Homo sapiens: one gene and its partner. The protein of the gene in region 1 interacts with the protein of each later gene in a pairwise test. Each region holds a gene or a part of one and is shown on either strand. Other genes may lie near its edges.

Region 1 (11,152 bases):
TTTCCCTTTGGCACTTTGGGAATGTGTGGAAGGGGCCGCCTCTTTGACTTGTGACTTTTCTGCTATTCCAACTCCCCAGTCCAGCTACACTCCCCTCCCTCCCTGTATAACCTTAGCCACCTCCCTTGGGCTTTGGCGTGGTGTACTTTTCTTTGCGGGGCACGAAAGCAAGGACTCTATTTTGAAGAGATCGGCAGTTCATCAAAAAAAAAAAAATCTATTACAAGGCTTCATAGTTTCCACACTTGCTTCTTTTCAAGTAGTCCTGCTTAGGTGGATTATCTCGTCCTCTTCTGGTTTGCTGTTGTTTTCTAATGGCTGTGGAAGAGAAGCCAAGTCAAAATGATAACCAGCACAACACTAATTAAAAAATCGATATCCCGGTGAGCAGCCTGAGGGAAGTGCAGCAGAGGCCCATCGAAACCTGCACACAAAGCTCAGAAGCCCCCTTGCCCCGTGCTGTTTATTCCAAAGAATGATTACAAACAAACATCAACGAGAAACCTTTCAAGGCATCCTCGGCCAAAGCCTTTTCTTTTTACATAGTCCAAAATTAAGTCACTTTTGCCCCATCTAAGAGAACACTTTGTCTATACATTTCCTCTTCTAGTTTTAAGGTTTAAGAAGTCAGTCTACTCTACGTTACTTTTGGACCCCTTCCCTCACCCCAGCAGAGAACCATTCCCATTGGGCATGTGTTTGGGTGAAGCTACCTCACTGGGCACCTGGTCCCTTGAAGCAGTGTGATAGTCCTGGTACTTGAGAATTGCTGTAATCATTTTCCGTGGGTCAATATTTCTTAAAAAAATCAATGTGTTTATGTCAAGAACTTAAAGAATCTTACTGAATTTAAGTACTTGAGTGGTACCTTGAGGAAATTAACTTCCCCTCAGTTAAACTCATTTTTCATGCTGAATGGACTGAAATATACTCTAGGTTGCCTTTTCCGAAACCTGTGATACCATGCTTAATTCAGCCCCATTGCAGATGAAGTAGAGGGTTGGTCAAATGCATGCGAAGAAGGCATGCTGTAGGGAAGAGGTGGTTCTATCTGAGGACAGTGTGTGACTTCCCTATTGATGGGCTCCCTGCCATCAGCACAGATGGGCATGTTGTGTGCCCCCAGGCGACTATCTGTGCATCAGATATGGTTGCTGAAGTCACAATTCACTGATGGAAAAGTTGAAACAGCTGGCTGTCCTGAAACAGGAGATGTGCCATTGATAGATCTACTGGATCCAGAGTGATTTGGCCAAAGTTAATCATTTCTTTCCTGACTTGAAAAATTGTTCATTATGTATGTGAAGTTGCCTTAGAATAGAGCATCATCTTAAATAATCAGAAACCCAAGTTACAATATTTAATGTTTATGTCAGACTCTGTCAAGCCAAATGATACTTCATTTTGTGTTCCACATCTGCCCAGGCCTGCCCAAGTTGTATCCCTTCAGCTGCTTAGAACAGGAAGGGAAAGGACATTACCTTCTTTGGGTGTGGCTGAAGATTAGCATGGAGGCTAAAATTCATCAGAAGGCCCTTGGCGGCCAGGCGCAGTGGCTCACGCCTGTAATCCCAGCACTTTGGGAGGCTGAGGCAGGAGGAATACTTGAGCCCAGGAGTTCAAGACCATCCTGGGTAACATAGTGAGACCCTGTTTCAGTTAAAAAATATTAAGAAGAAGAAGAAGAAAAAGAAGGCCCTTGGCTGGGCTATAGGGAGAACACCTATACCGTGGACTTCTTCTGTGTGAGTGTGTGTGTGTGCGTGTGTCTTTTAGGAAGTCTGGTAGCATAGTAGGAGGGCTCTCCATCTGTACCTGAGGCCCTACTAAGACTCATTCAGTTGTGACTCATAAGGAAAATAGCCATTTTCATTTTCTGACTCATGAACACAGTGTACAGCTTGTAGTTCACCTTCTATCTTCCTCCTGAAAACTCACTTTGGGACACTTTTCTATCTTGAGAAAACTAGGAACACTACCAGGCAATAGTTACTTGTGTCTTTTTCCTAAGGAGACTTGAAGAAGTTAAAAAAAACCCTGCACATCTTTATAATTTAGTGGAGGTTGTTTAGCAGAGTACAAAAAAATCTCTGTTGACTTTAACCGTAATACCCATCTAAGGCTTCCTTCGTAGAATCTGGGCTTATCATCATCTGCAAAGGAAGTTCTGCTTTTGTGGCCATGACCAGTTTGGACTCTCTGATAGACTGAAACCCATGGCTGTAGGTCCGCTATGTGCTTTGGATCCAGAAATTGTGATTGATTTTTATGCAAGGTTTCTGTGCATTAAATATACAGAAATATTTGAGCAAATCTGAATTGACCATCACCTCAAAACATGTTCAAGAGCTGTTCCCTTTTCCTTACTTGCATATACTTGTGAGGAAATTATAGATATGACACATAAGAATACCCAGGAATAGATTTACAACCTAGAAATCTGATGGATAGCTGATGATAAGGTAGGTAAGTTCCTTTAGGTGATGGCATGGCATGTATTTAGAAAGTCTGGAATACATTTCAAATGTTTCCTGGGAAGGTAACCTACTTGATTTCCACAGATTAGTTTATCAGATTGCTAGTAGTCTCCTAGTCAAAACAACACAATACAACAAAACAAAACCAGAAAGGAATGGGATCAAGCACAAAAAAAGTTTTGATGGAGGCAAAGCGTTGGGGAAATACCTAGAGTCCGGGACATTATCTAGGGACAAGTGTGAGTGGGCCATCCTAGTGGGAAATATTTGACAGCCCAGGCATCTCCTTGGAGAGAAAATGGGTGGAGCAGTGGATGGAGAGGGATGGAGAAGTATAAGAAGCAGACATTTACTGAAGTTGAAAGTCACCTCCACCACACTTTTGCTGAGGACTACAGTCTTGTCAGTGGTTGCAAACTTTTTTTTTTTGAGTTGGAGTCTCTCACTGTCGCCCGGGCTGGAGTGCACTGGCGCGATCTCAACTCACTGCAACCTCCGCCTCCCGGTTTCAAACGATTCTCCTGCCTCAGCCTCCCAAGCAGCTGGGATTACAGGTGCCTGCCACAACGCCCAGCTAATATTTTGTATTTTTTAGTGGAGACGGGGTTCCACTATGTTGGCCAGGCTGGTCTCAAAGTCCTGACCTCGTGATCCTCCTGCCTCGGCCTCCCAAAGTGCTGGGATTACAGGTGCCTGCCACAATGCCCAGCTAATATTTTGTATTTTTTAGTGGAGACGGGGTTCCACTATGTTGGCCAGGCTGGTCTCAAAGTCCTGACCTCGTGATCCTCCTGCCTCGGCCTCCCAAAGTGATTACAGGCATGAGCCACTGTGCCCGGCCAGTGGTTGCAAACTTAAATGTCTTATAATTTGGTGGAGGGAGGCTGGCCTCTAGAGAGTAAATATGGAATATATGTGCCATTCTAGGAGGCACCACTACTTGATTCTAGGCCATGGTTATATCGACCATATTACCAAATTATCTTGTTTTTCAAGAGAAACTAGAAATCTAGATTTTTATGCTATATCTGCCAGTTCTTATTTTTATTTATTTTGAGACAGAGTTTTGCTCTTGTCGCCCAGGCTGGAGTGCACTGGCGCGATCTCGGTTCACTATAACCTCTGCCTCCCAGGTTCAAGCAATTCTCCTGCCTCAGCCCCCTGAGTAGCTGGGATTACAGGCCCCACCACCACACCCGCCTAATTTTTGTATTTTTAGTAGAGACAGGGTTTTACCATGTTGGCCAGGCTGGTCTCAAACTCCTGACCTCAGGTGATCTGCCCGCCTCAGCCTCCCAAAGTTCTGGGATTATAGACGTGAGCCACCACGCCCGGCCTCTGCCAATTTTTATATGTGATTTGATCATCTCAGAGGGGCCAAACACAGCTGCAGATTAGCTGTTTGCAGCCACTTTATTGTAAGTCTTAACATGGTGTCCTTCTGTGAACCACAGTGATTCTTCTCATTCACTCACCAGGAAGAATGTCTAAACGTTCACTGCATACCCAGTAGTGGCATTCAGTATTTATCCATACATCCACACCTTCCTACTGGGTCTCCCTAAAGAGAGGGAATAGCCTGGTATTTTCAGCCTATGCATTCTCTAAGCTATTATAACAGGGAAAATCTGCATCCAGCTGCTACTGTTTGGCGCTATCTCAACACCTGTGTAGGATGGTTCCACGAGTGGTGAGGCTGCAAATTGAGCTTTTCTCTTCAACCCTTCAACTCCTTCCTCCACTGAAAATGCCATGGCCTCCAATGTCACATGATGGACTTCTTGTTTTTCACTCCTTTTTCAGTTGAATCTCATGAATTGGCGGTCTGTCTCAGGCGTTTTCCTGAGGGTTAGATAATGAGCAGCGGCGTGCATTCTGATAACTTAGAATACAACATTTTGCCTCTGTGCCTAGTGTGGGCATGTGATGAGCCCCTGTGAGACTCAGTGAAAGAACATATAGTACCTTGCGTTTCCTCATGAGCCAAGTGTGGGGCCTTATTATTCATTAGGAATTTGAGAAATCTCTTTTTATCTGCTTCAACAAGCAGAAATATTTTAAATCTTCTGTGTAAGTGCAAGGTATTATAAGCTTCATGGTAGGATATATAGGAATTATGTACAGTCATGGTTTTCCAAGTTTGAGTCATCTCTTTTTTTTTTTTTTTTTTTTTTTTTGCGAAAATGCAGCAACTTGTGTTTTTACCAATCTGTGATTAAAATGTTTCTTAATGGTGAGTTTTTAAAAACTTTTTTTTTCTTTTTCTCACCATGCTGAAATATTTACAAAGTAAATAAGAGGTTAAAGGTTAAATGCCAAAGGTATTAAAATAAACATCTCAGCCTTATAAGCACATTCTGTAATAGTGGTAAACAAATTGTGTTTTGAATTTCAGTTTCAGAATTTATGTTGGCAGAGACAAAAGGTTTTGGGGCATCCTAGCAAAGTATTTTTTTCATATATCTTTGGGACAGCCACACTTAAGAGAAGTACAACTGTAAAAGCCAGCCCTAACATAGTGACATGAACTTTGACAACCCATAGAACTCAAACTGTACATGTGAATGAAGTTGGCCCGCCCTTCTGAGTTACCACCATGAGAATGACGTCATTGCCGTTGTTCAAAGCACTTTTGAATGGTCATTTATGAGCTATGTAATAAAACCTATTTTTTTGCCGGGTGTGGTCGTTCAGGCCTTTACCAAAAAAAATTTTAAAAATTAGCCACGTGTGGTGTCATGCACTATAGTCCCAGCTACTTGGGAGGCTGAGGTGGGAGGATTTCTTGAACTGAGGAGTTCAAGTATGCAGTGAGCTGTAACTGTGGCACTGCAGCCTGGGTGAGAGTGAGAGAGAGAGAGAGAAAGAGAGAGAGAGAAAAAAAAGAAAGAGACAGGGCTGGGCCCTGTGGTTCACGCCTGTAATCCCAGCACTTTGGGGGGCCGAGGTGGGCAGATCACCTGAGGTCAGGAGTTTGAGACCAGCTTGGCCAACCTGGTGAAACCCCGTCTCTACTAAAAATACAAAAGTAGCCAGGTGTGGTGGTGCATGCCTGTAATCGCAGCTACTTGGGAGGCTGAGGCAGAGAGAATCACTTGAACTTGGGAGGCGGAGGTTGCAGTGAGCCTAGATCACGCCATTGCACTCCAGCCTGGGCAACAAGAGTGAAACTCTGTCTCAAAAGAGAGAAAGAAGGGAAGAAGAGGGAAGGAGGGAGGGCCTTATTTTTTATTTTTTAACTCCTTAGTGCCCAGTGTGATCATTCCTATTACTCACCAGACTTTGTATTACATCCCTCTCAGGTGTTTCCAGAAGTTACATTGTGCCTCAAAGGCGGAACAATTAGCCCCACTAAAGATATGCAGTATCCAGCAGGTCCCTTTTTCCTGGAATAAGTATAAGAACTGCTCTGAAGGAGGCACACTCTCTTGGGTCTTTTGAGCTCTGATAATGTTTGTTACAAATTCATTTATAGCACTTTATGGTCATACGTTACATTATAGAAAGTAAAACATAGGCTACATTGTAGAAAGCCCAGAAGAGAGCTTAAAAATTCTATCCTAAATCCATTTGTTAACTTCACAGAGAGATCTAGAGAGGTTAAATTACTTCCAAAGTCTCATAGCTAGTTTTTAGCTGAGCTGGTGCCAGAATCCAAGTTAGATCTGATCCAGTGCAGATCTAACCTTATTAGATCCCAGTCTAATAAGGTTTTTCTTACCAAACAGTGGTGGGAATAATTCTTTAAGAGTCTGGACGTGACCAGATAGTTTTCTTTCTGGGACTTTTCAAGAAAGTCTGCTTGTAGGTGGAAGGTTACTGTACTAACTTCATTATAAGAAATTTAGAAGAATTCAGCCGGGCGCGGTGGCTAACGCCCGTAATCCCAGCACTTTGGAAGGCTGAGGTGGAGGGATCACCTGAGGTCAGAAGTCCGAGACCAGCCTGGCCAACATGGTGAAACCCTGTCTCTACTAAAAATAAAAAATTAGCCGAGTGTGGTGGCAGGCACCTGTAATCTCAGCTACTTGGGAGGCTGAGGCAGGAGAACTGCTTGAACCTGGGAGGCCGAGGTTGCAGTGAGCCGAGATCACACCATTGCACTACAGCCTGGGGCACATCTCAAAAAAGAAAAAAAAAAAGAAAAAGAAATTTAGAATAATTCACCCAAAGTACCCCCACACCCTAACACAGTAATTATTTTTGTCTCTGGGTTTCCTTTCAGTCTGTTCAAATGCATTGTTTCTTTGTTTGTTTGTTTTTCTTGAGATGGAGTCTCACTCTGTCGCCCAGGCTGGAGTGCAGTGGCATAATCTCGGCTCACTGTAACCTCCTTCTGCCTCCCAGTTTCAAGCGATTCTCCTGCCTCAACCTCCTGAGTAGCTGGGATTATAGGTACACACTACCATGCCCGGCCAACTGTTTTATTTTTAGTAGGGACAGGGTTTCACCATGTTGGCCAGGCTGGTCTTGAACTCCTGGCCTCAAGTGACCCACCTTGACCTCCCAAAGTGCTGGGATTATAGGCATGAGCCACCACACCGGGCCTCAAACACATTGTTTTTATGTGGTTGTAATTATGGGGCAAATATACAATTTGTGTTCTGTTATTTTTCCACTTGTTTTACAAATCCTTTTTCTTGATAAGCATATTTGTTATATTTTGGTGGCAGTATTATAATCCCATGTAGCCGGATTACTCACTGTGTGTCATAACTGTATGGAGACTTCCTCCAGAAGTGTGTACAGGGGAGAGTTCCTCCTTCCACCCACTAGAACCGCTGTGGTCAGTAATGGGCTGCTTAATCTTTGGCTCCTGAGATAAGAAGCCCCCTCTTTGGGTGAGCTTGGGATGCATACTCCACATTCCCAGGTTCTAGCCCAAAGGTACCTACCATTGGTGCTCCCCCTGGATTCTGGCGTTGACACTCAAATATGTGACACCAGTGGGTACTCAGACCTCTAGGTCTTCCTTGGCAAATATGAGTGGTCTTACCAGAGAACGGGAGTGGATGGAGATGGAGAGCTTTGAACCTCAAAGTGGAGAGAAGACATTGCCATGGCAAAGGAGGTTAGCATACAGGCTTGGTGAATTAGAGCTGGGCATGGTGGCTCAGGCCTGTTATCCCAGCACTTTGGGAGGCCGAGGAGGGCAGATCACTTGAGGTCAGGAGTTCGAGACCAGCCTGGCCAACATGTCAAAACCCCCGTCTCTACTAAAAATACAAAAAAATTAGCTGGGTGGGGTGGCGGGCACCTGTAATCCCAGCTACTCGGGAGGCTGAGGCAGGAGAATCGCTTGAAATGGGAGGCAGAGGTTGTGGTGAACCAAGATCTTGCCACTGCACTCCAGTCTGGGCGACAGAGCAAGATTCCGTCTCCAAAAAGATGAATTAGTCTCTCTGCCTCTGCTTATGAGAAGCTCCCCATATAGTGGAGAAATGATAACAAAAGGCTTCCATATACATGATTTCATTTCATTCTAGCACCAGTGTTGGTTTTTATTGCCATTTTACAGGTAAGAAAATCAAAGTGTAGTGAGGGGAGGGGAATTACTTAGGGCCACACAATTTGTATGTGACCAGCCAGATCTGCTAAGTCCATGCTCTTTGAAAAGTGGTTCAATAAATTATTTCTAAATTTGACAATGCCGAGTCCACGTATTTGTATACTTTTTCATTATTTCACATACTCCTGAGGGAAGGTAAGGCTGATAGAAAATCACCAATTTTGGTTGATTTTATTCAGTAATACCAGAGGGGATAATTTAGACTTAAGAACATTGTCTGTTATGAGTAGTAGTGTTCTGAGTTTTAATTTCCTTGCTTTGGGACTTTGCCATAGAGACTAGAAGATGTCATAGTGAGAGCAAGCATAAAAGTAAAAGAAAGTAATACTGGCCGGGCATGGTGGCTCACGCCTGTAATCCCAGCACCTTGGGAGGCCGAGGCGGGTGGATCACGAGGTCAGGAGATCGAGACCATCCTGGCTAACATGGTGAAACCCCGTCTCTACTAACAATGCAAAAAAAATTAGCCAGGCATGGTGGTGGGCACCAGTAGTCCCAGCTACTCAGGAGGCTGAGGTGGGAGAATGGCGTGAGCCTGGGAGGCGGAGCTTGCAGTGAGCCGAGATCGTGCCACTGCATTCCAGCCTGGGTGACACAGCGAGACTCCGTCTCAAAAAAAAAAAAAAAAAGAAAGTCATACTAGAAGGCTCTCTAATCTTAACTAGGATTAAAAAAAATAGAAAATAGGAAAATGTGAGAACAACAGAGATTTAGTTGTTTAATTCTTAAATACATTACAGAATACAACAACAAAATTAGAATATCACATTGTTAGTCTCCTAATAATTTCTTCGGTGTGACCACCATTTGATGTTGACAGCAATTTAGGATAACATTACATGGTCACAGAATATTTTGGACAGTATTATCTGATTCTAAGAAATTTTCAATGAAAAAATAATAGGGCTGTTTTTGGTGTCCTAGGAAGATGCAGACCTTATAGAAAATTTTAGATTTAAATGCAGAAGAATCTAATAAGCTATTTTAAGAATGTAAGTAAAGATAGCTTCCTTCAAGGCTTGGGAATGCTGTAATGCAGAAATATGCATCAATGCAAAATGATGACAGTGCCCTTTCTCCACATCAGATTATCAGAGATTCCTAACATTTGGATGGGAGAATGTCCTGAGTCCTCTGAGAATATGTTGGAAGCTACTGACCTTTTCCCTGACAGTGTTTATAATAACAAATAAACATTCCGCAGATCACGAGAACAAACAAAACAGGAACAATCTAAATGTTCATTGGAAGAGAAATACATGTGGCTTGTTTGATAATATGGTATCAATATGCATAGGTGTCACAAGGGTAGTGTTTGGTAAAGAAGCAAGTTGTAGAAAGACGCATATCTGAAACCATGTAAGAAAAATGTCAAAAACACAAAATAAGACTGCTATTTGGGGGTCTATACATTTATTTGTGTATGTGTACATATATGTATTTGTGTGGATATTATTTTAAAAAATATAGGCTGGGCGTGGTGGCTCATGCTTGTAATCCTAGCACTTTGGAAGGCCGAGGCGGGTGGATCACCTGAGGTCAGGAGTTCGAGACCAGCCTAGCCAACATAGCGAAACCCCATCTCTATTAAAAATACAAAAATTAGCCTGGCGTGGTGGTAGACGCCCGTAATCCCAGCTACTCGGGAGGCTGAGGCAGGAGAATCGTTTGAACCCAGGAGGAGGAGGTTGCAGTAAGCTGAGATCATTCCACTGTACTCCAGCCTGGGCGATACAGCCAGACTCCATCTCAAAAAATAAATAAATTAATTAATAAATTAATTAAAAAAATCCACAGACTAGAAAGATCCACACCAAGTTCAAAATACTGAAGGGGGAAAGAGGAAAGGGAGACGACTGAGTCAGTAATGTTTTATTTGCTTTACATATAGAAAAATCCAAAGCAAATATGATGAGATATTATTAATTCTAGGCAGTTGTACATATATATTTCTTTGTTATCCTCTGTAGTTTTAACATCTTTTCTCAGTTCAGATGAAAAAATACATATAATTCTTCATTTAACTTCAGGAGGTTTATAAACCCCTGAAGCCCATACAGTAGCATTCCAAGAATTACAACTAACATTGTCTTGAAATGAGTATTAGGGAGTATGGTCAATTTTGGATCTATGTCAGGTTATTTCAATGACAGTTGACATACAGTCGCATCAATAGTGAGTCCCACTGACTATTGTGTAAAGAGCCATTAGGGGATATGTCTCCCAATGTTCAATACATCTTAGCTCTGCTTAGCCACCTTTTCTTGTGTTAGCTTTTGGTGTGACCAATCACCCAAACTCAGTAACTTAAATAATAAATGTTTATACTTTCTTATGATTTTGTGCACTGGCGTGGCAGTTCTGGTCTCAGCTGGTTCATTCAATCACTGTGGTCAGCTAGTGGCTTGGCTGGGAATGGATGATCTAGGGTGGCCTCACTCACATGTCTGGTAGTTGGTCCAGTCTCAGCTGGGGCCATGGGATGGCTTGGCCATGTGTCTCTTGTCACAACAGTCTAGCTCTGGCTTGTTTACATAGTAGTGGTCACACCACAGGGTTCCCAAGAAAAGCAAGGGTACAAGCTCCAGGGCACACACATTTTTCAACCCTTGCTTGCGTCATGCTTGCTATTATCCCCATTGGCTGAAGCAAGTCACACTGTCAAGTCCAGAGTCACTGTGGAAGAGGACTGCCCAAAGGCTCAGATTCAGTTCCCTACCCTCAACCTTTTCTGTCAACTTTCCTACATTGCGGGAATACTTGGAGGCAGGAATAGATTGAGTGGTAGCTCCAGTTTTCTCTGGCTGATCCCCTGAACCCCTTTGTTTGACAGAAGCCAGCATGGCTCCTGCTCTGTCTGCTGCTGCTTTCCCAAGCAAGGCATGAGGAATCGGAGCTGAAGTCCTTTTGTAGTGATGAGGCTCAGTCTCATTCTAAAACTGCTGTCTTTTGTTGGGGGAAAAAAAGGGCAAAAACAGAAGCTAACAACAAGAAGGAAAATCATTTTCTATCTGCTAAAGGGTGCTTTACAAGAATAACAAACATTTTACATTAAGTCCAAAGTTAGAGAGCAATGAATCATGCCAAACCATGCTGGGCTCGATGG
Region 2 (11,152 bases), on another chromosome or scaffold:
AATTTGAGGTAGTTTCTCAGTCACTTTATTCTTTGTGCCTTTTCTGAATAATTTCTCTCTCCAGTTTTATGTGAGATTTTGATTTGAGAAATGATTTGTTTCTGTGCTGTCCCTGGTAAAAACTTTAGCAAGAGTTTTTTCAAAGTGAATTCTGAAAGGGCTTAAGAATCTTCAAGGATAACCGTCTTAAAGAAGCAAACTTAGGACACCCTAATAGAAAGTAAATTTTAATAATTTCATTCCACTCAAGAGTGTTTGCCTTTAATATGAATTTGGTTAAACTCAAAACACAGAAATCAGTCTTTATGAGACCTGGTGTTATGTTGTGTTGGATGGGGTTGCTATTTGCCTGAGGCTATATTTAAAAGTATTTCTTGGATGCTTAATTTTAGATAAAAGAAGTAAGCCAACTGATATATTTGCAATTGGTTTTGAAGAAATGGTAGAATTGAATGCTGGAAACATTGTGAGTGCAAGGTAAGCTAGCCACATTAATCCACTGAAAAATTTGCCAGTTGAGGGAAACTATGGAGGACAGATAATTAAGTAATTGTTACAAGGATAGTTTGAAATAATAAATGGAAGGGTGCTCGTAAAACTGTAAAAGAGCATTTCTCATACTTTTGGGTCTGAGGATCTCTCTGCACACTTAAAAATATTGAGAATGTTAAATAACTTTTGCTAATGTTGTTTATATCTTTGTTATATTAGGAATTAAAAATGAAAATTTAAAAACATTTAATTCACTTAAAAACAATAATAAACCTATTACATGCTAACTTAAAATAAATTTTTTGAAAAATAACTTTTTCAAAACAAAAAATTTACTGAGAAGGGTGGCACTGTCTTGTAGTTTTCCAAATCTCTTTAATGTCTAGTTTAAGACAGCCAGATTCTTACATCTACTTCTGTGTCAGTCTGCTGCAGTATGTTGTTTTGATTGAAGTATATGAAGAAAAATCACATAACTATGTAGTTTGAAAAGGAAATATTTTAATAACCTTTCTAGATAATTTCTTCTCTGATACTACACCAAAACAGATAATTTATTCTCTGCTGTAGTATAGATAACAGAGAAGTATTATCTTGGTGTAGTGTGTGGATAAGACACTATACCAAATGGTAGTGTCCTAAAGGTTAGTTGCAAAATGGAATCTGAAACCATATTGATGAACTTTTTCTGCTCTATTATCTAAAATTCATCTTTTACCTTTGCGTGATTTTGTAACATCATGTATTGGTCACTTGGGTTCCCTAAGTTATGTAGCACTTCCAAATTTTAACACATTTCATTATATAATATCAAAGCATCATATTGGTTAATTACCAGCATTGGTAACTGCATCAGAAAATAATTGTTGGGAAGCTGTAAGGATCATGGTAGCAGATACAAGTTTTCCAGAATACTAATTTTTGCCTGAAAACGCAAGTTTTTCCATTGAAAACAAATGCTCTTGGTTGTTTTTCTTAAAGAGACAGGCTTAGTTGAAAAAAATGCCACATAACCTAAATCTGAATAACCACCGTCTGTCATTAGTTCTTTTAAGGGAAAATTGTATTCCAAAAAAAAAGTGGCAGTTTGACTCACAATTTAAAGCATTTTCTTTTTTTGTTACAGATCATAAGTCAGTATGCAACACAAGTGCTTTGTATGTATTTCCTGTGTATCACACAGAATATTAAAAAGATGTGACCTGGGTTGAGCTTTAATAAAATCAATAATGTCTGTTGCTTCATCAAGGACATTCTTAGGCGAAGTGGCATTTTTTTTTTCCTGCAAGTATATGGCAGTGGGGATTGTAATGATGACTAGTATAGTTTGGTGCCTAAATTCGAGTGAAAGCACCAGCACTTTTACCCATTGTTGCTTTTGCACCATCAGTGCAAATGTTAGTCAACACAGTGAAAGATGTCTTAATAGTATGATGAAAATAGTTGTGACCCCATGGGCTTTGGGAACCCTCAAAGATGTCTCCAGATCACACTTTGGGAACGCTGTTCTGAATCCATATTATAAATACAAATTATATGAGTGAGGCTTAAAACTTCAGTGTTTTATTTTAACAAAGTATGCTTGCTTTTAAATTTCAGCAGTTTCCCATCTTTTATGACATTTTTAAAGATTTTTAGGAGAAAATTATAGGCTGAAATAGTCATCAATCTTGCAAGTGACAAATATTTTATTAGGCAAAATGAAAAACAATTCACATCAGGAAAATTGGAAAGAAATCAACTTCACCCATTTTGTTGTTTGATTATGTTTCCTGAAAAATATATTCAGGTCCTAAACTAGACTATAACTCTGAGGGTTCCTAGTACTAAGTGCATGGATCAATTGTTTGTCTAAATAGAGTTTAATCAAATTCTTCTTTAGGCTAGGTTTAATCAAATTCTTTAGGCTGGGTGTGGTGGCTCATGCCTGTAATCCCAATGCTTTGGGAGGCCAAGGCAGGTGGATCACTTGAGGTCAGGAGTTTGAGACCAGCCTGGCCAATATAGTGAAACCCTATCTCTACTAAAAATACAAAAAAATCAGCTGGACGTGGTGCCCCGTGCCTGTAATCCCAGCTACTCAGGAGGCTGAGGCAGGGAGAATCGCTTGAACCTGGGAGACGGAGGTTGCAGTGAGTGGAGATCGCACCACCGCACTCCGGCCTGAGTGACAGAGCAAGACTCTGTCTCAAATATGTATATGTATATATATATACACACATGCACACACACACACACACACACACACACACACACACACACATATATATTCTTCTTTAATAAAGTAGTGAATATTTATTCATTTATTTAAGCAGTACCTACTGAGTACCACTCTTAAGTACCTCCAATGAATCAAACAGACAAAAATCCCTATCTTCATGGACTTCGTATTCTAGTGGGAAGAAACGGACAGTGAACAATAACAACAATAAGTAAATTATACAGCATGTTAGAAAAGTGCAATGGAAAAGAGAGGAAAAGGAGATCAACTATAGGGACACAGGGAAGTGTTGGAAGTCTCAAATGAATGATCAAGATAAGGTTCATTGAGAAGATGAGGAATGAGTTTCAGCTACTTGCGGGGCTGAGGTGGGAGGATCGCTTGAGCTCAGGCAGAGGTTGCAGTGAACCGACATCCTGCCACAGCACTCCAGCCCTGGGTGACAGAGTGAGACCCCATCTCAAGAAAAAAAGAGAGATTAGGAGACATGACAAGCAAATGCAATATGTAGACCTTGTTTGGACCCTTTTTAAAGAAACAAACCAACTGTTAGAAGATTTTTTTTTAATAAATGGGGAACTTTAAGTATAAACTATTAGATGATATTAAGGAATTATTAATGTTTAAATGTGATAAGGTGAAGAGGATGGAAAAAATAGATTGGCAAAATGTTGGTAATTTTGAAATGGGTATATGGTGGTTTGTTTAATGATTATGTCTTCTAATTTCCCATAGCAAGATTTTTTAAAAAGACATTAGTTATAATTTAGAAAAATTTTGAAAAGTGGGGAAATGTATTTGGAAGCACATATAGTCACATATATGTGCACAGTTAGCTGTCCTTATCCATGGGTCTGACATCTTTGGATTCAACTCATCAAAATATTAAATATTTTTTAAAATTGTGTCTATACTGAACATGTGTAGCCTTTTTTTTTTTGTCTTTTTTACTTGCAGACTTTTTTGTATCGTTATTCCCTAAACATTACAATATAACAACTAATTACATTGTATTAGGTATTATAGGTAATCTAGAGATGATTTAAAGTATACGAGAGATTTACATGGGTTATATGCAAGTATTACTCCATTTTATGTAAGGGACTTGAGTATCCTTGGATTTTGGTATCATGGGAGGTCCTGAAACCAATCTCCCACAGATACTTCTATACTTCTCTGTGATCTTAATGAATACTTAAGGAAAAAGTAAAATGTATAAGTTTGAATTTACTCACCCAGTGAGTAGCCATTTAATGTCTTTATATTTTCTTTGTAAAGAAGTAATAGATTAGATTTTGAAATGTGGTTTTCTTTTGGCTAAATTGTAGATTTTCCTTTTTAAAGGAAACAAAAACAGCCTAAGCTTCCTTCAGAGTCTTAGGATATTTGGGTAGATAAAGGTATAATTGACAATTGTCATAAAATAGGCTATTGTCAATACCTTTTTAAAAAATTCTCTTTTTAATATTTTCTTGTAGCACAACAAATCAGAAGCTCTGGGCTGTAGAACTTCAGAAGACAATCTCCAGAGACAACAAGTATGTGCTGCTGGCTTCTGAACAGTTGGTGGGCGTCTGTTTGTTTGTTTTTATCAGACCACAGCATGCTCCTTTTATCAGGTCAGTAAACAGAACACTCCTCTAAGGCTACTTCCTACCATTAAATAACAAGAAAAAAGCCTAGAATGTTTATTGTTTCAGTTCTTCAAACAAAAACTATCCATAGTTCTTGTTTTAAAATGGGGTTTTGGGGGTTTTGATTAAAGACTCACCAATAGCTTCACTGTACTATTTCAAAGGCTTGCCCTCAAAGTACCATACCATGTGTACTTAAATGATTATGTATATTCCTCATTTCCTATGCACATGGAACTCTTGAAATTTCAAATCTGCGATTTAGAATTCTTTGTTTCAAAGGGATGTTGCAGTTGATACTGTGAAGACTGGAATGGGAGGTGCAACTGGAAATAAGGGAGCAGTTGCAATCCGAATGCTCTTCCATACAACCAGCCTTTGCTTCGTCTGTAGCCACTTTGCTGCAGGGCAGTCACAAGTCAAAGAAAGAAATGAAGATTTTATAGAAATAGCACGAAAATTGAGTTTTCCTATGGTAAGCTCTTGCTGCTTGTTCTTGAAGATAAAGCTTTGAAATATATTTTAATTTGCCCCAAATTCTACATCAATGTTTTTGGAAATTTAAGATAGTTCCTAGAAACATTAAGAATATTCACCTAAATAGATATTTCATGAGTATTAACCCAAAATATCTGAGACAGGGCTCAGTCAATTTAGAAAGTTTATTTTGCCAAGGTTAAGGATGTGGCCATGATATAGCCTCCAGAATTCAGAATGACATGTGCCCAAGGTGGTCGGGGGTACAGTTTGCTTTTATACATTTTAGGGAGACCTGAGACATCAGTCAGTATGTGTATGATGTACACTGGTTTGGTCTGGTAAGGCAGGACAACTCGAAGTGGGGGCTTCCAGGTTAGAAGTAGATAAGACGCAAAAGGTTGCATTCTTTTAAGTCCTAGATCAGCCTTCCACTGAATACACAATTTAGTGTGGCTCAGTGAATCTGCATTTTTGCATAAACAATAGGGCAGAGGAAGCAGTCAGATGTGCATTTGTCTCAGGTGAGTCTCAGAGGGATGACTTTGAGTTCAGTCTATACTTTGTCCACAAGGAATTTCCTGTGGGCAAATTGTGAGGGAGTTATGTAGCTTCTTATCTTTGGAGCTATCTTATTTAGGAGTAAAATGGGAGGCAGGTTTACCTGTCATAGTTCCTGGCTTGATTTTTCTCTGGGCTTAGTGATTTTGGGGTCCTGAGATTTATTTTCGTTTCACATGTGTTATTACTGTTGGGTCAAAGAAACAGGACATGGGAGGAGACAAGCATATCTCAGGCAAAGAAATAGTTGTAAAACATTTTTGAACATTGATTGTTTTGAATTTAAAATTCTATCTCATTGCTTTCAGGGAAGGATGCTATTTTCCCATGACTATGTATTTTGGTGTGGTGATTTCAACTATCGAATCGATCTCCCTAACGAAGAAGTTAAAGAGCTCATAAGACAGCAAAATTGGGATTCTCTTATAGCAGGAGATCAACTTATCAATCAGAAAAATGCTGGACAGGTATATCTATACTTGAGAAAATACTTGCATTAAGATTTTGGGTCGTGAAACATGCCTTTTTAAATCAAGATGTTTTAAAATTTTCTTGGGGTCTTTTTGTACTTAAATATGCATCTGTAGGTAAACAGATAATAGAATTATCTTTCCTTAAAGTGTAGCAGGATGAGCTGCAGACAAGAACCCTTCAGACACCAAGTTGTAGAAGGAAAGGGCTTTATTCAGCTGGGAGCAGCAGCGGACTCACGTCTCCAAAAACCGAGCTCCCCGAGTGAGCAATTCCTGTCCCTTTTAAGGGCTTACAGCTCTAAGGGAGTCCATGTGAGAGGGTCGTGATCGATTGAGCAAGCAGGGGGTATGGGACTGGGGGCTGCATGCACTGGTAATCAGAATGGAACAGGACAGGGATTTTCACGATGCTTTTCCATACAATGTCTGAAATCTATAGATAGCACAAGCGGTTAGGTCAAGGGTTGATTTTTAACTACCAGGCCCAGGGCACAGTGCTGGGCTATCTGCCTGTGATTCCATTTCTGCCTTTTAGTTTTCACTTCTTTCTTTGGAGGCAGAAATTGGGCATAAGACAATATGAGGGGTGGTCTCCTCCCTTATTCCCCCCTTTGAGAACTTCACTCATTAATGGGAGTTCTCACTTTCATCCTCATTACCCATGTCTTCTTGCAAGACAGATTGATAGTGATTCATATGGTACACTTGCGCTGAAGCATTTTGGTGAGCTAAGGTAGTGATGAAGCTTTTTATCATTTGAAGAAGTACAAGTAGCAAACAAGGGAGCAGTAAGCAGGTTCCTATTACTATTATAACTCCTATTATAAGAGTTTTAAATCCTCCTAGCACTGGGAACCATTTTTCAAACATGGCCCCCGGATCAAATCCATGCCACACTTGCACAGGCACATGTGTCAGTTTTGTCATATCTCTAATTATGTCTTCAACTACTTGCCCTTCATCATCTGTGTATAGACAGCAATTAGTAAGGTTAAATTTCCCACAGACCCCCACCTTCAGCTGCTAGCAAGTAGTCGAGAGCCAATCTATTTTGATAGATAGCATTTCTCATCTGAGACTCTTGCCAGGGCAGTATAGTCAAGGCTCTGCCAGTTTTATTAGTGATTATTTCTAAGACAGCTTGTAACCGTATGATTCGGTTGAGCATGTAAATGGGGGTCCAGTATCCCCACGAGCCATCTTGTGCCCAAGTAGCAGGTCTGTAATATTGTATGATTCTCTCAGGGGGCCATTCATCATCTTTCCAATTTCCTATAGCTATGCTTCTCTTTTCTCGGGCAGCATAGACAGGGAAACCCAGGAGTTTGCCTGTCTTTATGGGCAGTAGGAAGAAAGATGGTTTAATAGTGCCAATAACACAACTACCTGTCCACTGGTTGGATAATTTGGCACAAGCTCTATGCCCACATATACAGTATAATCCAGTGGGGGCTGTCCAGTCCTGGTGGGACTCCGGATGGGTCCACACGGTTTGCAACTTTGGGAATTTACTAAATGGATTCCTTTCTGTGTGATTTGAACTCCACCAAGTGACTGTTTTTGTGGTACCATTATACAGTTTCTGTCCCAGACAACTAAGTCATCCTACGGGGTGAGTGAATTCTTTTCCTTCTCCAGCTATGCAATATTGTCCAATAATTGAGGTTTTTAGGACCCAGAAATTATCAGGGTGATTCTTTTGAGCTGGGAATTCATCAGGAACTGGGTCTGTAGGTACTAATTCTCGGGCTTCTCGTGGCCATTGATCTCCCATTACAGTTCCTCCACATACATAATGTGAAGCAACATTGAGAGACTAGGCTACATGCTTGGCTAATTGCAAAAACAAATTTCTTGTTTTTCCTGGAATTTCTGGTACTGGCACATTTAGTTCATCATAGAAAGTTTGAAGCACTGGCTCAGGAGAGTGTTTGTAAACTTCTCCTCGAACTAAGATATTTACTCGAGGATCCAGTCCAGCCCCATTGATTCCTAAGGTCACACGCTCCCCTTTTTTCCAGCGAGGATCAAGGGGATTGGTTATTACTAGCTCTAAGGGGTTACATTGTCCCTTAGTACAGGAAGGGCCACTTTTTCCTTTCTGAAGCTGCACTGGATCCTTTTCATTTTTTATCCAAGTGGCCCAAATGACACCAGTATCCACATTGATTTCCACACAGTCCTAATTCATGACAAATATACTTATTTTTGGTCATATAGCCTTTTTCCCAATCAAAAGCCACACCCCTTCCTAACTTATTGCTCTTAATGACAGCACAGGCATCAAATTTCAAGATTATGCGTTTGGGCACCCCTTTTTCTTCTGTTTTGGCTAATACTTGTATCATTTACAAGTCCCCATCAGTCTTCAGTCCTTAATCTTACTTCAAAAACTGTGGACCTGGGAGGCCACAGAGGGATCATAACACACATCTGGGCAGTCGTTTCCTAGGCTACATACCTCGTACTGAGTGTCATTATATAAACACGTTCCTTTTAAAGTTCCTAGGCATTCATAGTAACTATAGAACAGAAAGATTGTTTTAACTTGTTACCCTACCTCAGTAACCTGATGTATACACTGAGAGCAGTCTTCTATGCAGGGAAAATCAGTGGAAGTTTTTACTATACAAGTCCAAATTATAAGGAAAATGAGTCCCACGATGATTCTCCTCATGCCTCGGCCGTGCGTAGACCAGTCAGCTTCCGGGTGTGACTGGAGCAGGGCTTGTCATCCTCCTCAGAGTCACTTTCAGGAGTTGTCTGGGCTCGGTTTTGCCTCCCAAGTTTCAGCAGCTGCAGGTTTCACACGGCTGTGGTGGATCCAGGCTGGGATTCCTTCTCCTTTACAGCCGTGGGGGTGGTCAGGATGATGGTGTGAGGTCTTTTCCACTGTGGCCGCAAAGGGACTACGTTCCAGTCCTTGATCCACATGCGATCACTTGGAGAGAAAGGGTGAACTGGGGAGAATAAGCTGACGGGACACCTCTCATTTACCCAAGTTGAGATTGTTTGTGTAATTTTTCCCAAAGCCCGTAGCTGTCACTGTAACTCAATTTCACCTAACTCTCGGGGAGTGCCTGGAAGTCCCCCTAGTATAGGAGGAGGCCTATGATACAGTATTTCATAAGGGGAGTATCCTGTTAGAAGGGATGCATCTAATTTTAAACAATACCATAGGAAGGGCCTGTATCCATTTTAATCCTGTTTCCTGACATACTTTCCCTAAACTATTTTTGATAGTCTGATTCATTCGCTCCACCTTTCCAGAACTCTGAGGTCAGTAGGCGGCATGTAGTTTCCAAGTGATTCCTAATGCCTTTGCTGTCTTCTGTACCAAGTCAGCCACAAACACCGGCCCGTTATGTGAGCCAATTCGTAAGGGCAGTCCAAACCTAGGAATAAGATCTCGGAGAAGCACACGGGTTACTTCGTAGGCCTTTTCAGTTTGTGTTGGATAAGCCTCCACCCACCCAGAGTAAGTACACACAAGAACCAGCAAATACTTGTTACCTTCACATTTTGGCATTTCTGTGAAATCCACCTGAAGACCCTCAAAAGGAGCCGCTCCATAAGCTTGTATGCTGGGTGGAACCGTGGGGCCTTGCCTCACATTGCGCTGTCAGCAAGTAACACACCATTGTGCTACTGCTTTGGCAAGGGCTGGCAAGTGTGAGATGTAGAAGTACCGGCCTAACAACTTTTCAAGTGACTCTTGACCTAGAAGAGTGGTTTCATGCATGGCCAGTACGACTGTGGCTCTCAGCAACTGTGGCACAGCTACCTTCCCATCTGGCAGTCTGATCCATCCTTCTTTTATTACTTGCCCCACTTCTGTGTGGAAAAAGTCTTTTTCTTCCTTAGAATAGGTAGGTACCAGGTCAGGTGTTTGAGGGAGTAAGGGGGCTGCTACTGATGCACAGTAAGGGGTAGATGCTGCTTTTCGAGCTTCTGAGTCAGTTTGGGAGTTTCCTAAGGCCACTGAGGTGGAGGCTCGCTGGTGTCCCCTGCAGTGCATGACTGCCACCTTCTGAGGTTTCCACACTGCCTCTAATAATTGTAGAATTTCTTGTTGATATTTTATGTCCTTTCCCCTAGAGTTTAACAGGCCCTTTTCCTTATATAATGCTCCATGCACTTGGAGGGTTAGAAAGGCATATCAAGAGTCAGTGTAGATGTTTACAGTCTTACCTTCACTGAGTTCTAGAGCCCGAGTTAAAGCAATGAGCTCAGCCTTCTGGGCTGAAGTGCCCTGTGGCAATGGTTTGGCTTCAATGACAGCGTTCAAAGTTACCACCGCATATCCTGCACATCTTTCTCCATGTGGATTGATGAAGTTGCTCCCGTCCATGTATAACTCCCAGTCTGCTGATGCCCATGGCTGGTCCCGAAGGTCAGGTCTGCTAGAATAAACTGAGTCCAACATGTCTACACAGTTATGCTTGACCAGGCTCTCTGATACTGGGAGCAGGGTGGCGGGATTTAGGGTGTTACAGACGTCAGTGATTATGCGGGGATTTTCACATAGCAAGCTTTGGTACTTGGTTAATCTAGCATTTGTTAGCCAATGATGTCCTTTGGTATTCATCAAAGTTACCACAGTATGGAAGGCCTTTATATTCAGGTTTTGCCCAAGGGTTAGTTTATCTGCTTCTTGTGCTAACAGGGCCATTGCTGCCAGGGCCCTTAGACATGGGGGCCAGCCTTTGGAAACCCCATCTAGTTGTTTTGAGAGATAGGCCACTGGCCTTGGCCAGAGCCGCACAGTCTGGGTTAAAACTCCAACTGCCATTTTTTATCTTTCTGACACATAGAGTGTAAAGGGGTTTGTCAAATCTGGTAGTCCTAGGGCTGGGGCCAACATAAGTTTTTCCTTTAACTCATGGGGGCCTGCCATGCGCTGCTGTGGTGAGGCGTTCGACCGGGGCAATTACCTACCCGGAAGTGCTCTCAGGATCCGCATTGCTCAAGCTGGCCGGAGTCCCCCACAGGGATGTGCCACAGGGCAGGCCTAAGCCACCTAAGGGGCTGCCTTGACCATCCGTTAATCACCTCACTTCCCGGTCGGGGAACCAAGAAATGTAGCAGGACGAGCCTCAGACAAGAACCCCTCAGACACCGAGTTGTAGAAGGAAAGGGCTTTATTCAGCTGGGAGCATCGGCAGACTTGCGTCTCCAAAAACTGAGCTCCCCGAGTGAGCAATTCCTGTCCCTTTTAAGGGCTTACAACTCCAAGGGGGTCCGCGTGATAGGGTCATGATCAATTGAGCAAGCAGGGGGTATGTGACTGGGGG

Evidence for each region.
Region 2: the proteins of MYO1E (region 1) and SYNJ1 interact in a two-hybrid assay, tested with the Homo sapiens proteins (one study listed by IntAct).

What each region holds. Positions count from the first base shown.
Region 1 is NC_000015.10:59,360,500-59,371,651, reverse strand, and holds part of MYO1E (unconventional myosin-Ie), read left to right. Parts: intron 1-11,152. UniProt on the Homo sapiens protein: Actin-based motor molecule with ATPase activity. Unconventional myosins serve in intracellular movements. Their highly divergent tails bind to membranous compartments, which are then moved relative to actin filaments.
Region 2 is NC_000021.9:32,659,613-32,670,764, reverse strand, and holds part of SYNJ1 (synaptojanin-1), read left to right. Parts: intron 1-392; coding exon 393-477; intron 478-4,191; coding exon 4,192-4,332; intron 4,333-4,629; coding exon 4,630-4,822; intron 4,823-5,693; coding exon 5,694-5,852; intron 5,853-6,048; exon of another isoform or gene 6,049-9,266; intron 9,267-9,371; exon of another isoform or gene 9,372-9,537; intron 9,538-11,152. UniProt on the Homo sapiens protein: Phosphatase that acts on various phosphoinositides, including phosphatidylinositol 4-phosphate, phosphatidylinositol (4,5)-bisphosphate and phosphatidylinositol (3,4,5)-trisphosphate. Has a role in clathrin-mediated endocytosis.